2 separate regions of the Homo sapiens genome follow, and region 1 is linked to region 2. A link means that fine-mapping ties the variant in region 2 to the plasma level of a protein whose gene starts in the linked region. Region 2 holds a variant in brackets. A gene starts in the other region. All regions are shown on their reverse strands.

Region 1 (8,328 bases), not on the chromosome of region 2:
ATTGCTTTTAGAATAAAATCTAGTCTGCCTACCATGCCTTCAACACCTTGAAAGGTCTGGCCCCACAGATCTCCTCCTCTCCCTCTCCCCCTCACATTCTAGGCCCCAGCCACACTTCCTGTCTACTCTATGAACAAGCCAAATTCACTCTCTCCTCATGTTCCCTCTGCCTAAATGCACTCCCTTCAAAATACATTTCCCCCAGTTCCTCACATAGCCATGTTCTTTTCTTGGTTCAAATCTCAGCTCACCTGTCACCACCTCCAAAAGGCATTCCTGGAGACTAAAAATTGAAAGCATCTTATTTTGTTGTGCAATGATATATTGCCTGATTCTCCAATTAATATGTAAGCTCCACGAAAGTAGATATATCTATTGTTTTTTTTCTTGCCGTATTCCCTTTGCCTAGAACTCTGCTTGACACATAGTAGATGCTCAATAAATGCTCGTGGATCAATCAAATATTCCATTTTAGGTGAGAAATACATAATTTCATAGTCATCCCAAAAGGCAGAGGTGCTGACAGTGTTGTCCCCAGATCCAAACTGGAATCTGTATTCGTTCCCTATTTTTGATCTGACAAATTAACACTTAAGTGGCTTAAAACAACACAAACTTACTCTCTTAGAGTTCTGGAGGCTAGAAATTAGAAATCAATTCCACTGGACTAAATTCACGAGTTAGTCCCTTTTGGATGAATTCCCTGCTATGCCTTTTCTAGCTTCTGGGAGGCCCCTGCATTCCTTGGTTTATGGTTCTGTCCTAGAATCACTCTGACTTTTCATTTCATCCTTACACCTACTTCCTCTGACTCCTCCTGCATCACTTTTATAGGCACCACTGTGATTGCATCCAGCCTGCCCAGACAACCTCTCCATCTCAGGATCTGTAATCACACTGCACAGTCCCTTTTGCCATAAAAGGCAACACACACAGGTTTGGGGATTCAGAGGTGAACGTATTTGGGGGTCATTATTCAGCCTACCACAGATTTAACTCATGGATTTGTGTCATTCATTTCAGCCAGGCCTTCTCTTGAGAAAAGAAGGGCAGCATTCTTTTAGAAATTGAGGTCTCTAGAAACCACCTGGGTCTCTCCACTCCTCACCTGTCATGTAAGGCAAAGGCTATTTGTGCTTTCTCATACCTCCAGAGACAGCTCCCATGCCCCTCACCCTGAACCTGGCCTGTCCACAACCAGAGGAAGCAGGGAACAGCCTGCGGCTCTGGAACTCACCTGAGCCGAATTCCCCAACAGGAGCAGGTGTTAGTATTCAGGACACGGTGTAAGGCTCACCTGCCTCGGCCTTGAGGTCATGTGGCTGCCAGTTGAAGGAGGGTTACGGGGGGCTGCCTAGACTAGATCATGTGGCATAGAGCCCCTGACAGGCCACGAGCCAGAGAATGGGTGTGCCACCTCCAGGTCCCCCAGGCGTAACTGGAGCCTCAGGAGGTGTGTGCTCAGAGAGGTAGGTGGGACAGGTAATACCCCTCTTTTGGGGGATCTTCTCCCTTGGCTCATTTTTTGCCGCTTTCTGACACACACCAACCTCTCATTCTAAGTTTTTGTGTTCTGTTTGATCAATTTTTCAAAACTCTCCACCCTTTAGTTTCACTCTTTCCAAAACTACCTAAAACCACTTATCCTTCTAAGACCCTGTCATGGCTGAGCATGGAATGTTCTGTAACCCAAGGAATGCAGGTAAATCTGAGTGAGATTTGAGTTTTAGTCTGGATTTAACACTCGCTAGCTGTGTAATCTTGGGGGAGTTACTCCACCTCTCTGAACTTGTCTTCTTCCCTGTGACGTGGGTTGTTGTGTTTCATTGTTTGAGACAATGGAGGCAAAAGCACTGAGCACAGTGTCTGACCCAAGAGAAGTGCTCAGTGGGTGATTGTTCTCAGCATTATTAAGATCAAGTCTCCTACCCATGTTTGAAAGTTAAGAGAGAAAAGTGTTTCAGGCTGGTTGTGGTGGCTCATGTCTGTAATCCCAGCACTTTGGGAGGCCGAGGCAGGCAGATTACCTGAGGTCAGGAGTTCGAGACCAGCCTGGCCAATGTGTACAAAAAAAACACAAATTAGCCGGGCATGGTGGTATGCACCTGTAATCCCAGCTACTCGGGAGGCTGAGGATTCAAGGATTCAAGAGAATCACTTGAACTTGGGAGGTGGAGGTTGCAGTGAGCCAAGACTGAGCCACTGCACTCCAACCTGGGTGACAGAGCAAGACTCCATTAAAAAAAAAAAAAAGAAGAAGAAAAAGAAAGAAAGAAAGAAGAGTGTTTCAAGAGCGAAGTGCTGAGAGATTAAGGTTCGTTCAAAAACAAATATTTATTGTGCACTGTCCTAGAGGTAAGATAAAGAGAAAAATATTGATTGAATTTGGTAACATGGATGTCTTTGGTGAACTTGATGAGCAACAGAGCAGGAAATTATGGCCACTGACAACTTGTTATACTCACAGATCCCAAGAGAAGGGGACACACCACACTGGGCAGAGGGGCTGAAGGGAGAGGAAGAGCTGCTGGGAAGTACCAGGGTCGGTCAGGAAGCAAAGAGAGCAAGGGAAAAGGCAGGAAAGAGCCTTTATTGTAGTTTCTGCAGGAAGGAATGGGAGAGGCAAGGTAAGCAGATTTAGGATTGGCTTAGTTTGAATAATTTCAGAGACCTCTGGGCCATAGGAGTTGTCTCTAGTTGTCTGGTACCTGGTCCCTTGGGGTGATCTAAAGCAGCAAGTAGTGACCCTAAGTGTAAAAGCCCCAAAAAGGAGGCCAAGGGTTGGGGGTATGTGGTCTGGATTGATTGATTTGCAGTCGGAAAGGCACATTCACAGATAAGTCGTTTTTGATCTCTAGTAATTATTGAGCCCTGGGAGGGGCAGTCCCTCCATGATCAGTAAGGCCCCAAAATGTACAAGCACCAAATACAGAAACTAGAAAGCATGGTGATTACACTTATGAATAGATTCCAACCCAAACTCCCCATTTTCCTGCCCAAGTCTTTGTCAAGAAAACTCCAGAAGCCACCTGGGGTCACTGTCTTTAATCCTTTGAAGACACCCATAATAAGGTTTAGACAAGGCCTCATGAAAAAGGTATAGGATAAAAACGACTAGTTCAGAAAAAAAAAAGTAAATAAATGAAGAGATAACTTCCCTTTTCATCAAAGAATTGCAAAAATGAACAATAATGAGATCGTTTCCACTTATCCTTTTGGCAAAGATGAAAGCAAGTTACCAATGCTCAGAACTGGTGAGTAGTGTTGGTGGGATTGTAAACCAATTTATAATAATTCTCTGGGGTGCTGTTTGGGAAGAGGAGTCAATATTCCTACAGCTGTGCTACCTCTTTGACCCAGAATTTCCACTCCTTGGACATAATCCTGAGGAGATGACAACACCAGTGCCAGTGGTTACCCTACCACTGAGTGGGACAGGATGGAGAAATGTCCTGAAAAGAGCAATTCACAATAGCAAAGACTTGGAACCAACTCAAATGTCCATCAATGATAGACTGGATTAAGAAAATGTGGCACATATACACCGTGGAATACTATGCAGCCATAAAAAATATGAGTTCATGTCCTTTGTAGGGACATGGATGAAGATGGAAACCATCATTCTCAGCAAACTATCGCAAGGACAAAAAACCAAACACCGCATGTTCTCACTCACAGGTGGGAATTGAACAATGAGAGCACTTGGACACAGGAAGGGGAACATCACACCCAGGGGCCTATTGTGGGATGCGGGGAGCGGGGAGGGATAGCATTAGGAGTTATACCTAATGTAAATGACAAGTTAATGGGTGCAGCACATCAACATGGCACATGTATACATATGTAACAAACCTGCACGTTGTGCACTTGTACCCTAAAACTTAAAGTATAAAAAAAAAAAAGATCAATGCAGTGATCATGGTGATATTTTCCTGCTCAGCCCAAGTTCACACATATTTTATTTTTCTCAACATGATGACAGCCACTCTCACACTGACTTTTGGAATGTCATGTATGTTGAACTGGGTCTGAAGACATGGTTTTAACTCAGGCTCTGTCATTTTCTACCTCAGTGATTGCACAACAGCAAAGCAGAATTTTCACTACTTCCATGAATATAATCATTACTATATGACTTTACTTGCATCATCTCCTTTGGTTACTATTACTACTGTGGGAGATGGGTATTCTCATTTTATAGACAAGGAAATTGACCTCTGGACCTCAGGAAGGTTAAGAAATGAGCCCACTGCCACACAATAAACACCAGATAAAGGAGGCAGACTGACTCCAAAGTCAGTCTATTTAAGTGCAAATTTATTTCGCCTCCAAAGGGACCTCCCAGTCATCAGACCTGATTCTTTGTTGTACAGAGTGGGTCAGGTCCAGTGATGTCTGAACTACCTTCTGGTTCTGACTTTCAGCCATTCTCAGCTCCTCTCTTGCTTGTGTCTGGATTCTAAGGCTGATCTCATGAGAATGGGTGTTTCAGAAGGGTGCCCTCTCCAAGACAGGTGCACCTCCCATCTGGGGCAGTGAATATCCCTTTTGTCCTTATGCAGCCTGGCTTCAGATACTGGCTTCTGCCTGGCTCCTTGATCCCACCCTGCCCTTGTCAGTGACCAAGAAGAAGCCCAGCACCTTGGCACTGCTTTCCCAGTTAATTTCTAACTATGGAATCTCTTGCTGTTAGAAGGTGCGAAACAGTGACCTTGTATTTCCGGGCACAGGTGTGACCCCCCAATGTCAATCATTTGGGGTCTCTAGCTATTAGGAAAAAGAACAACAACAACCTCACAGCTTGGACAAGGCAAACATTATGCCAGGAGGAAAAAATATTCCACCCCCAAGAAAACAATATCAAAAAACAGAACTAGAGACTAATTGGAGGAGAGATTGCCAGCCTGGGGCAAATGTGTATATATAAGTATGAGGCACATCATGACCAGACTAACTCTACCTTTCTGGCTTCAGGTAAGGCTATCTGTAGCTGTCTTCTCCTAGCCCAGCTTCTCCCCATCCTATTTGAGGGAGGTAGGAGAGGAAATTAAGACCTTGGACACTGGGGTCAGACCTGGATTTGAGTCATTATTCTGCCAATTATTGGCTTCATGATCTTTAGTAAGTTAGTTTTCCTCTCTTTGATCCTCTCTGTCCTAGTAACAATGACTACTATTTTTTGACTTATTCCATGAATATTAGTTATGCACCTATTATGTGCCAGGTACCAGGGTTACAACAATGAACAACTTGCTATGTGCTGGGCCCTGCTCGACATATGTCATCTTAGTTAATCCCAGTGACAATATGCAGTGTTTTAGGTCGCATCTTATTAGCGGGTCATAAAATCATTCCTTTTGTGGGTTATATCCAGGGACTTCTTTTAATTAAATATAATAGAATATGTCAGTAAGCAATACAAATTTGAGGCAAGCAGTTAGCCTCTTTGTCCCCCTGTTTTCTCATCTGCAAACTAGGATAATACTTATCTCATAGGGTTGTGGTAAGAATTAAATCACTTAATGTAGTAAGGATATCAATTGTCTTATAAAATTTTATGTGTGTGTGCACATACATGCAGAAGCGACTGCACTAGATCATGACATAAAATGTTTTTCTTTCTTTCTGTCTTTTTTTTTTTGGGGGGGGGGGATGGACTCTCTGTCACCCAGGCAGGAGTGCAGTGGCACGATCTCAGCTCACTGCAACCTCTGCCTCCCAGGTTCAAGCAATCCTCCTGTCTCAGCCTCCCGAGTAGCTGGGATTACAGGCGCCCACCACCATGCCCGGCTAATTTTTGTATTTTTATTAGAGATGGGGTTTCACCATGCTGGCCAGGCTGGTCTCAAACTCCTGACCTTGTGATCCACCCCCTCAGTCTCCCAAAGTGTTGGGATTACAGGCATGAGCCACTGCACCTGGCAACATAAAATGTTTTTCTTTTAGTACATCATGGTCACGAAGATCTGGAAAACGTTGCTCTAGGACCCAATGCCTTTGAGCACATGAATGTCTTTGAACTGAGCCTGGCCCATCATAGATATTCAGTTTGTGAAAGCAACAATCTCCATTTCACAGACAAAAACGGAGACTTAGTAAACTGAAATACCCACATCACAGTGTTAGTGATCAGTAAAGCAGGGATTTGAACCTCAGGTGCAGGCTGCAGCTCCTACATACTTAACCAACATGCCACCCTATTTTGCTGCTATAAACACTGGGGTAATACTGGCATCCACCCTGGACTATTTTTCCAATTGGAAGAAATAGTAAGTGACCACTCCAGAAACATTTAAATGCATTGTGAAGGTTAATTACCTCTCAAGTTGCTCGTCTCAAGCCACTTCTTTACGATATGTGAGTTGCATGAAGGAGCAGACTGCCATGTTCATTGTTCTCCATGGTGACTAGCTCCCTGTTTGGCACAATGTAGCTACTCAATAGATGTTTGTTGAATGAATAAGTGATCCAGGCAAATTGAAAGTTTCCAGGCAGAGGATCAGTTAAAATCCAAAGCTGCCTTCAGTAAAGTGGTGAGTCCAGAACACTATTCCATCTGGCTACTTCCTGCTCCAAATGACTGAGTTCTTCAAAATGTGCAATGTGCTGAGAATTGGGGAGCCAAGACTGGGATGTTGGTGAGGTAAGGAGGGGGAGTACAAGGGGTAAAGTCCCAGCAAAACAAGGGCTGCAGTGTTATGCAATTTTTTAGTCCATATAAGTGACACCTCCTGGAGTTGTATACTATACAATCAAAGCACTCCTTCCAGCTGTGGGGAGGAGAGTTAGATCATGCATTTGTCCCATCCATCTCTGTTCACAGGACACCAGACATCAGAGACAGAGAGAAAAATTCAAAGGGCCAACCCGTCTTTCCTTTGGGCAGGTGCTATCTAGACCTGAAGTAGCGGGAAGAGCAGAAAGGATGGGGCAGCCATCTCTGACTTGGATGCTGATGGTGGTGGTGGCCTCTTGGTTCATCACAACTGCAGCCACTGACACCTCAGAAGCAAGTAAGTGAAAAGTGTGTGTGCGTTGTATATGTGTGTATGCACGTGTATGTGTGAATGTGTGGGGGAAGCAATGTAGCACCTGTCAGAGGTGATCTCAATCCTCCTATCGCACTTGAGACTTGCATTGTCTTCATTCTAAGTCCATTTCTTAGACTCAATATGCACAGGACTGACTTAGAAATTTTGCTAAAGTGCATATTCTGGTTCAGCAGATCTGCAGTAGGACCTGAGATGCTGAATTTTTAACAAGCTTCCAGGCGATGCTCATACTGGGGTCCCTGGAGTACACATTGAAAAGCAAGGGGCTAGAACATCTCTAAGGCCTGCAGGCCCTTTATTGGAAGTCAGAAACATACTCTATCACATAGGAGATTTGAACCCATGCAGGAGGATCCAAACACCTTCCCTTTCAACTTTAAGAGGTCATTCCATTGGGTTGAGATTTGCTGTCACCCCACTTTCATTTTCTCCCTGGAGTACGTTGGGGCACGATGAATACTATTGCGGTGTCCTGGTTAAAAGCACATATTTTGTGGTCCTGCCATCTGCGTTTTTATCCTGGTTCTACTTCTTACCAAAGGAGTAAGGGGCTTAATCCCTCTGAACCTCAGTCTCCTCATCTTTAAAATAAGGATACATAAAAAACTGACCTCACGAGGCCCTTGGGAAGTATTCAACAAGATAGTGAGTGAAAAGTGCACATCCTATTGCCTGGCATATAGTAATTGCTTAATAAACAACAGCTTCTTTTTTTTTTTAATGGTTATTTTTATTACGGAGGAACAAAGTACAACTGCCCAGCCAGGTGGAGTTGGAGGACTCCGCAGAGAGGAGGCGACACTGAGCAGGGTCCTGATGAAGATTTCACCAGCCAGGGAAGCAGAAAACATAAAATGTGCAAAGAAAGGGAGGGGCAACAGGTTCACCGTAAATCCTACCAAAGTATAGGAATTCTGCGCATTACTTTTCTGAATGTGGCTATTTTAAAAGAAGACAGCTTGAAAGCAATGCTTAACACAAAAAATGAATGGTGGAGCTGGGCGCGATTGCACGTGCCTGTGGTCCCAACTTTTTGGGAAGCTGAGGCAGGGTGCGGTGGTGGCTTGAACTCAGGGAGTAGAACGCTTGAACCCAGGAATTGGAGGCTATGGTGAGCTATGATCGCACTACTGCACTCCAGCCTGGGCGACAGAGCAAGACCCCTCTCCAAAAAAATAAATAAAGTTAAAAAATACAATGAAATAAACACAGAATGAACGGTGGAGGCTTGACATCATCAGAGGAGTTTTGTTTCTTTGCTTCTTTCCTTGTTTTG
Region 2 (8,333 bases):
ATATGTGTAAATAAGAATTTTTTAAAAAATTACATCACTGACATGTATGTGAGCCGAAGAGTTTGGGCTGAACATACTTGTGACAAATTAGTAGAAAAATCAGCTTAAGTTTTCTTAGTATATCACACACTGATAACATAATGTGAAATTTGCTGCATTCCACTATTTGTACTACTCAGGAAAGTAAAATGGAAATTTTCCATTTTACACATTTAGTTCCCCCCTTAAAGTTGGCAAACACTAACTTTTTCCACTGCATTTCTACGTAACTGGACTGTTGCCAGCTCGTGTGTGTGTGTGTGTGTGTGTCTGTGTTTTAATAGCTAGGCATACTATCACTGGTGCTATTAGCTCAACTTATCTGTATTTTGGGGTTCAAATTTGTTTCTTTTCACGGACACTTTGTGGGAGGAGGAATCTGATCATAGTTCTTTGCAAGTTTGTAAGTGGTTTACTGTCAGAGCACTCAGGGTGACTCAAATAGCAGTTCTGAAGTTTTGCTGTCAGGATGTTCCTTCGGGAGAGTTTCATTGCTGTGAGACAGTGGATGTTCCTATTTTGTACTCTAGCTTTGAGTGAGCTGCTTGCTATGCAGGACTTATGCCTTCTGTGCCCCTTTTGATGCTGATTCCTATACTTGAAATGGTCTCCTTTGCTTATCACTTCTCTACTCATTCTTTGAAGTCCAGCTCAAACAGCCAAGCTACTCCATGTCACATTGCAGGAAATTATTCCTGCCTCCTCCACACTCCCTACAAACTTCATTGTGCTCATCTAACACTGACCACAAGATGCTTTGCACTTTATACACCTGCAATATGTTTTATACACATTCAAAGAGCATGCACAATTATTCTGTAGTACAGTAATGTTGATTGAACTTGGGGCTTCTAAACTGGCATACTTGGCTCTGTCTCTGACTCTCTTTAACTGTTTACTGAGCTTCAACTTCTTTGCTTCTAAGTAGGAGATTATTCATAGCCACATCATACATTTGATTTGAGAATTAGATGAGGTAATATATGCAAAGAGTCCCCATTTCTTGAGGGTTTGCTACAACTAAGACACTGGGCAAAAAGTTTTCTGTAATATCCTCCCATATACAATGCCTACAAGTGTTAATTCCTTTAGTCCCAATACTTGGACAGAGTGTGTACTCACTGAATATTTCTCTGATGAATGAGAACTGGACTGGAGCTGGCAGCAGGGGCCTGTCTGCTGAGTCAGCTGCCCTGAGTCAGCGGTTGAGGCACATACAACACTGGTCTCTAGAGAGGGAAGATACTGACTGGGCTGCAGTTCCCACCTATCTGGCTGAAGGGCTGCCAGAGTATGATTCCTAAGCACGATGGAGAGCTCATGGGTAAGGGAGAGTATCATTTTGGAACTACATGATTTCCTTTCTCACTGTCTCTCATTACCACCCTCCCTCACCCCTGCTGACCAATTCAGCCCAGAAGAGGTACAGATCTCATTCTGAGTCATTCCAGGGTTGTACTGGTACAAGAACAACTGCATTTTTACTATAACCCATGGAATATAAGAACATTGCAGATCTACATTCTTGGCCAGAAAAAAAAAAAAAGAAAAAAATTCAACCAAAGCACTATACCTCTTCAGTGGTAAATATTTTAGGAATGTTAGAGGTTCATGAAAATCACACCTAAATAAAATGACATTCCCACTCTTGGGCTCTTATAAATGAAGAGATTTTGGGGATCTCCAGGTTGATGACTCCTAACTTTCCCAGTGTTTTTTTCCATGAGCTATTGATTAAAGTTGGGTGTAGCACTATATTTTTTTCTCTTCCAGCTAAGCTGTTCCCATCATTTGGGAAGTTTTAGAAGCTTCTGCAAGCCCCTAGGATACCATTCTATGCATCAAAACCATTGTATTTAAAATGATATTTGAGGGACATTGGAAAGGTTTTTTGCAGTCTCCACCCAGGCTTGTCTTGCTCCTGGGAAGCAGTTGTACAGCACAAGAATCTGATGAACAGAAGTTCCCATGATGCATTGAAGGGTTAGTGTTGCCATCTTGCTCTGTTCCTTAAGGCTGGAGTTAATGAGGAAGAGTTTTTATGTGAATGTCAGGCATGTTGCAATAACTAGCCACAATGGAATAGTCATGGCAATTTCCACCACTTGGTTTCTTTGTTTTTGTGATGTTGCTGCATGCTTCATTTTATGAGTATTTTCTTTTCTTACGTGTGGTTGAGCCCATCTATTGCCATCTTGGGCTTGAATACTTGTATTTAAAAGAGATGAACAGAGAGAAACTGGAAAACTGACAGAATGACATATCCTGACCTCTTACTATTTTTCATCCCCTACTTCTGCTGACAAATATTCTGATGAGTTTGTGTCCCAAGGTGAAGGAAAAGAAAAGAAAAAGTACTGTGGAAACCAGGCTTCTTTTGGTTATGTTAATATCATGGATACAGACCAAGCCTAGTAGTATTCCCACTGAAATTAGATAAATGAAAACTGCCAATAGTCTTTTAGTTTTGGCTTTCTGGGGTAAGTCATTTGTGTCCTTGAGGACTTCTGTCTTGATCAAAGCATCTACTACCTGATTGCTAATTTATATTGGAGTGGTAACAGTAGAATAGAATATAAGGACTTGTGAAATTCTAAGTGTCTGGTGGCATCCTCACTCATTTCATTCATGATGGTGAATAATACTGTCAACTGCAGAAAGGCCTACCTGGAGGATATTGTGTGCATTACATACCTAGATTCCCAAGATGGAAGTCCTTGCATCTGTGGCAATACATGTGATGAACTACTAGGAGCAGACTTTCTTGTAACAACCTTTTGAGGGCTCTGGTCAACACAAGCAGAAGCGGTGGCGAGTCAGAGCTTAGGTGGGGTATGAGGCTGAGGATGTTGAATTCATAAGGATAAAGTGCCACTTTATAGACGTAACATACGCAGGGAATATACCTCCATTCTTAACAGCCTGTGTTCAGAATTTTATACCCTTCTAACACTTCCATCACCTTCCTCTCTTCCCTGCCTATACTTGGAAAGGATGCCAAAGCCTTCCTTAGTGCTTCACCTATCCAGTTTCGAAGCTGTCATGTGCATCCGATCCGATATTTCAAAGCAACCCTTTTGCCATTTTTCACTGTGTTATTCTCTCCGTATTACTACCGGATTTTTTTGGTTGTTTGTTTATTTTTTTATGACCTGACATCAAATCCTGTCTAAACACTAACACTTTTTCATGTTAAAATAAGTCAGTTTAACAAATAAGGCCAGGAAGAAGGCGAAGTGTCTCCCTGCTGTTACCCTGTTCTGGAGTTCCTCGACTTCTGGCGCACGGGGAGTGTGTGTGTGTGTGTGTGTGTGTGTGTGTGTGTGTGTGAATGCGTCAAGAGGGAGACACAAGCTCGGCCTTCGAATTGGCCAGCCTAGTGACCCGCGAGCCCGCCCCCACTCTTCCCCCTCCCCCTCCGGCGCTCACACTCAGGAAGCAGCTGGCTACAGGCCGGCCCTCGCGGCCGCACACACATCCACACTCCTCGCCCGGCTGCCTTCCTCCCTCCCTCTTCCCCCTTCCCCTCTCCCTGCAGCCGCGTCCACACTGCGCCGCCCGGGCAGCCCAGAGCGCGGCGCGCACGGGCACCGGCGGCGAGTGCCGCGGCCACTGCCCCTCCCGGGACCCCCTGTACGCCGTCCGCGCCGTCCAGGGTCACACCGGCGACGGAACCCGCCGGCAGCAATTAGCCAGCATCCCGGGGTCGGCCCCCAGAAGCATTCCCCGGCCCAGGACGAGGATGAACAGGACAGGCGAGGCACAAAGTCGCAACTGAACTTTTTAGAAACATTATTTGTGTGTGTATGTGTGTAGCAGGGGAGAATGAGCTGATGCCGAGGGTCCAGCCACCCCGCCTCTGCCTCCTCCTCCCCCTGCCGCCGCTGCCCTCGCAGACGCGCGCGCACACACGGCACTTGGGCCGGGTTTCCGCGCTCCGTCCCCCCGTTTGGATGGGGGTTTTCATTTCCGAAGGAGGCACAGCCCGCGGAGCGCTCTGAAGGGCTGGAGCCCCAAGTTACTCCTCGCCAGCGCCGGCCGCCCGCTGTCACTCGCGCTGGCCGGCCGGGGGAAGGGACCCGCACGCCGGGCTTTGTTGTGGAAATCCCGGTTACCTGGTAAGTGGATGCCATAGGAACTTTGCTCGCAGGCGAGAGACGAGGAGAAACCGGGCGCTTGAGAGTGTGGGGGAGTTAAAGCTCAGAGACGCAAACTAGGGATTACAAATAGTTTTCTACGCTGAGCCGGTGGCGTTCGCGCGGGTTTAAGGATACGCGCACCTCAACTCCCGGCGTCACAGGTCACTGAGAGACCTGCGCTGACTGAGACTGATAGCAACAATTAGGGTTCAAACCATGTTTCTGTCAGTGGCCTAAGAGCGCCCAGTGTAGAAGACAGATAACGGGGCTTTAAAGTTGCGCTAATTCGGAACAGTTTTTGTGTTTTCATTTCAAGTAGAGCGGGCAGAGGGGTACACAATCAGGGCACGTTACAGGACGCACGGGCATGGGGCGCACCACTCTGGAGTCCCCACTGAAGGGAAACTTTGGCGAAGTGGGAACTGATGGGGTGACGTGAGGTCT[C/G]TCGCGCACACGCGGGGCTGTAGTTGTCTTTTCAAGTTCCACGTGTTTGTGGAGTTTCACGAAGGCTGTTTTCCACGCCTGTGTCTCATCCAAGCCGGTGTCCCCATGATTGCGGGAGGTGGTCGGGCTGAGGGTACCTACACTCCTCGCGGGTACCGGCCCGGCGATCCGCAGCCGCCAGGTCTGGAACTATAACCTCCCACGCCGCCAGGACGCAGACACAGCCAGACACGAACCCTCCCCGCCGGGTTCGTCACCTCGCGTTTACATTTTTTATGGGGCCCGACAAAATGTCAGCACTGTTTGGAAAATGTCTCAGTCTCGGAGACGTTGTCCTGCGCGCGGCTCCAGTCCCTATAAATGACCCTGTGTGTATTTTGAAGTCGGCCCGGGTCGCTCTCTGGAAAGCGTGAGTGAGCCGCCGGCTCTCTCCTAGACACACACCTTGCCCCGAGCGACAGTTCCAAGTTACTCACTGGAGCTGACAAGTCACCTCGGGGACCGGGAAGTCACTCAAGTGTCTGGAAATCTTGGCCCTGGCTGATTTGTCATCCTATGGATGATTCAATTAGGTACCTGGCGGGAGAAACTTTGGGGAAGGGTTTCTGGCTCCGCGTTCGCGCCCTCCGACTTGCTGGAGGTGTTTGGGAGGCGAGAAGCGAAAGGAAACCACAGGGTGAGGACACTGGCTCGGCGGGGACCGGGGGGCCGGCGTGGGGGGACTGCGAGCCCGGCCGTGGCGCCCCCGGGCTACAGGCTCCGGCCAGGCCGGGCAGCGCGCGCAGGTCCCCGGCGCCCGGGCTTCCCAGCCGCAGCACCCTTTCGGCCCCCGACTCACTCAGGAGCGAGTTGCACAACAGGAAGCCGGCACTAGTTTGTTTTGTTGCGCTGCGTTCGCTCCCTCGCTCGCTCGCGCACGGGGCCGAGGGTTAGGGGCGGAGGCGGCGGGGGAGTGACGGGGTCGCAGCCGCGCGTACCCCGCCGGGCGCTGTCGCCTCCGCCTCCGGACCCGCCCCTAGCTCCGCGCCGAGGAATCTCCGACCCCGGCAGCGAAGCCAGTCCTATAGGGAACCGATAAGGGCCGCCCTCCTCCTGCCTTGTCCTACGCGCCTCTCCCCCGCTCCCGGCACCTCTCCCGACTTCTCCAGCCCTCCTCTTGGCAGGAGTGGTCTCGAGGACTGAGACCACTGCTCTGTGTGCCTCCTTGAGCCCCACGCTAGTTTGCCCCGGTATCCGCTTGGCCCTCATCTCTGGAGCATGTAAACCTGGGGAAGGGGTAGGGAGGTGCTTCCGGAATCACAGGGAGTAGGGTCCGTAGAGACAGGACTCGTGGAGTCGCGGCCCCGTTTCACAAAGAGGGTTGCTCTTGCACCCTCTCCCCGAGCCGGCAGAACCAACTTCCTCCAAGACTTCAGCATCTCCCGAGAGTTGGGGCCCCAGGGCCCTGGAGTTTGTGAGAAGAGGGAAGTTCTGCAGCTCCCCCCAGTGGACCAGGTCCCTTTAGTATGGGGCCGGGAATCTCGAGGAGAGACTATTAAAGCTAGAGTGGACCCTGGCTTCACCTGATGAGGAAACCGAGCCCCAGAGACGTTAGAGGTTTTGCCCAAGGCCTCACAGCCAGTTGTCGCAGACCCTTAAAGTTCTCAGGTCCCGGTTAAGAGAGCATTTCTTGGCTCGAAGATGACCTCAAGACAAATGCAAAGTCTGGTTCTGTCCCCTCTGAAAGCTTTGATGAGTCATGATTTCTGCCTTGGGAGTAAGCCAGACTTCTGTTTCACCCTCTGTCTTGTTCCTCACTGGACCTCCCTTTTTAGACTAAACTTTTTTTTTTTTTTGGGTACAAAATCGACTTGTGTTGGTTTAAACCTTCCTACTTCTTCTCTTTTATCTCCTCCTAGTTTGTTTCCGCTGGTTCTGTGTGAAGCAGGTGCAACCTGTAAAGGTTTGCAGAAAAAGAATCCGCCACGATGAAGGTCGTTCTGAGAAAGTTTGAAGCAATTTAGACAGGAGAGTGTTAGATTATATGCATTTTTTTTTTTTTTTTTTTTTTTTGCAATTGAGAACAAGCTGAGGTGTAAGGATCATCTATAACCGTACTGCAGTTTTCATTTATTTTCACTGGTCATCTGCGCAGCCAGACTAGCTCTGAGGCTACCTTTGAAAGGAAGTGTAGGGGACATTTTTTTTTCGCTATTTTCAAAACACCTGTCCTTATTGGTAGTTTGTAATTGCTTTCTTTTCTTGCCCAGAAGACTCAGTAATCCTTGAGTATGAGTAGATCAATTTAAGTGCTGCTGTTAACTTCTCCCCTTGGTTCACCTTAGGCCAGTTTGGGGACAGCATCGTTGATCCCCTGATTCCACTGAAGTTCCTTAGTAGGCAGGTTATCAGAGGTTGAATACCTAGGGTTTGTTGGTTTGCTTGGAAGAAGTGATCATCACTTCAAATAAGAAAGGCAATCTTTATTGGGGTGGTGGATGAACTCCAAGGTCCACCTAGTGGGTGAATTTCCTACTGAGCTAAAATAGCCTGGGTAGGAGAGGTTAAATAATACCCAGAAAACGTTTTGTATTAGCCCTGCCTTCATTTATGCAGGAGAAAGTGGTCCTTCTGCCATTCCAGAAGAGAGCTCAGTGTTCTCGGTCTTTTTTTTTTTTTTTTTTCCTCTGACTGTTCTTTCCTGCTAGTAAATTAAGCCTGAGGACATTCATTCTTTCCACTGTTGTCTCTCTCATATTATAATTATTGATCTTTGGAGTTGGAGTGTTAATTTACTCTTCTCCCAGATTATAGAATACATACTTCTTGAAGGAGATAACTCAGAGTGGCGTCACATGCACATTTCTCATCTCTGGAGAAGTCATTTTCTGTGTTTCTGTGATTATTTTCTGTAGAGGGCATTATATTGTAAATAAGGTGGAAATACAGGACTTAACTGTTTTACTTTTCCCTAAGTTTGGTTGGTTCATAGACTATCAGGACTGGGGAAAAAAGGCACATAGGAAATCTGTGTGATAAAAAAAAAACTTGTTGCCATTCTCATTCAAGGAAGATGACACATAACAAAACCTTTGAAATGACATTGATACATAGTTTGATTAAAAGATGTCCAAGTCCCCAGTTTTTGTAGTTTCCCACTTACTTTAGGCAGAGTTGACACAAAAGCCAAATTTTCTATTGAGATGAAATATCCTTACGGAAAAGCACACTTATCTTGAGCTCGATGCATTTTTTTGCAAGTGGAACACACCCACATAACTAGTCTCCAGATCAAGAAACAGAGCATTATCAACACACCAGAAACATCTCTCACACTCCATTCTAGTTACCACCTCTGCCTAAGGTAACCGTTGCCCTGGTTTCTAACAGATATATTAGTTTTGTCTGGTTTTTTTAAAAAAAATCTTGTGTAAATGGAATAATTCAATATGCACTCTTGGGTCTGGCTTCTTTCGCTCAACACAACAACCTTTTATTAGGTCAAATAATTTGGACTCCCCCTTTAAAGATGATGGAAACAGTCTGGCTTGCAGAAATTAGTGAGGCATTACTTAATATGATAGAATTAAGGAAAAACACTAACCAAACTGAAGCCATATTTATATTCTGATGACAGTCTGGTTAGGGAGACCAAACAGACACAAGTGAAATGTCTAATGTGACACCAGTGTAGGAAGCAGGAAAATTCAGAGGCGTTCCTTCCACTAAGGC

Alleles and levels. Positions count from the first base shown, and alleles are read on the strand shown. Strength reflects both the effect of a copy and how common the allele is.
In carriers of allele C in region 2, the plasma level of the protein whose gene starts at base 4,948 in region 1 tends to be higher than with G alone (weak association).

Evidence for each region. A credible set is the group of variants that fine-mapping cannot tell apart. PIP is the chance, under the fine-mapping model, that this variant and not a neighbour inherited with it causes the effect. Protein levels are from antibody-based Olink assays in UK Biobank. Linkage for the fine-mapping came from a reference panel and not from the study's own genotypes, which makes the PIPs less certain.
Region 1: UMOD starts here. The variant in region 2 is the best candidate, but not a certain one, in a credible set for the plasma level of the UMOD protein (UK Biobank, PIP 0.73).

The regions. Positions count from the first base shown.
Region 1 is chr16:20,349,335-20,357,662 of GRCh38, reverse strand. UMOD (uromodulin) reads left to right here and starts at 4,948. Exons shown (of 11, transcript NM_003361.4): 1 at 4,948-4,974; 2 at 6,824-7,013. The coding sequence starts at 6,926.
Region 2 is chr9:4,295,245-4,303,577 of GRCh38, reverse strand. GLIS3 (GLIS family zinc finger 3) reads left to right here and starts at 3,510. Exons shown (of 11, transcript NM_001042413.2): 1 at 3,510-4,157. It overlaps GLIS3-AS2 (GLIS3 antisense RNA 2), which reads right to left and starts at 4,277. Exons shown (of 4, transcript NR_186824.1): 1 at 4,155-4,277. RefSeq lists an enhancer at 6,215-6,509. The variant C/G (reference allele first, on the strand shown) is at 4,623.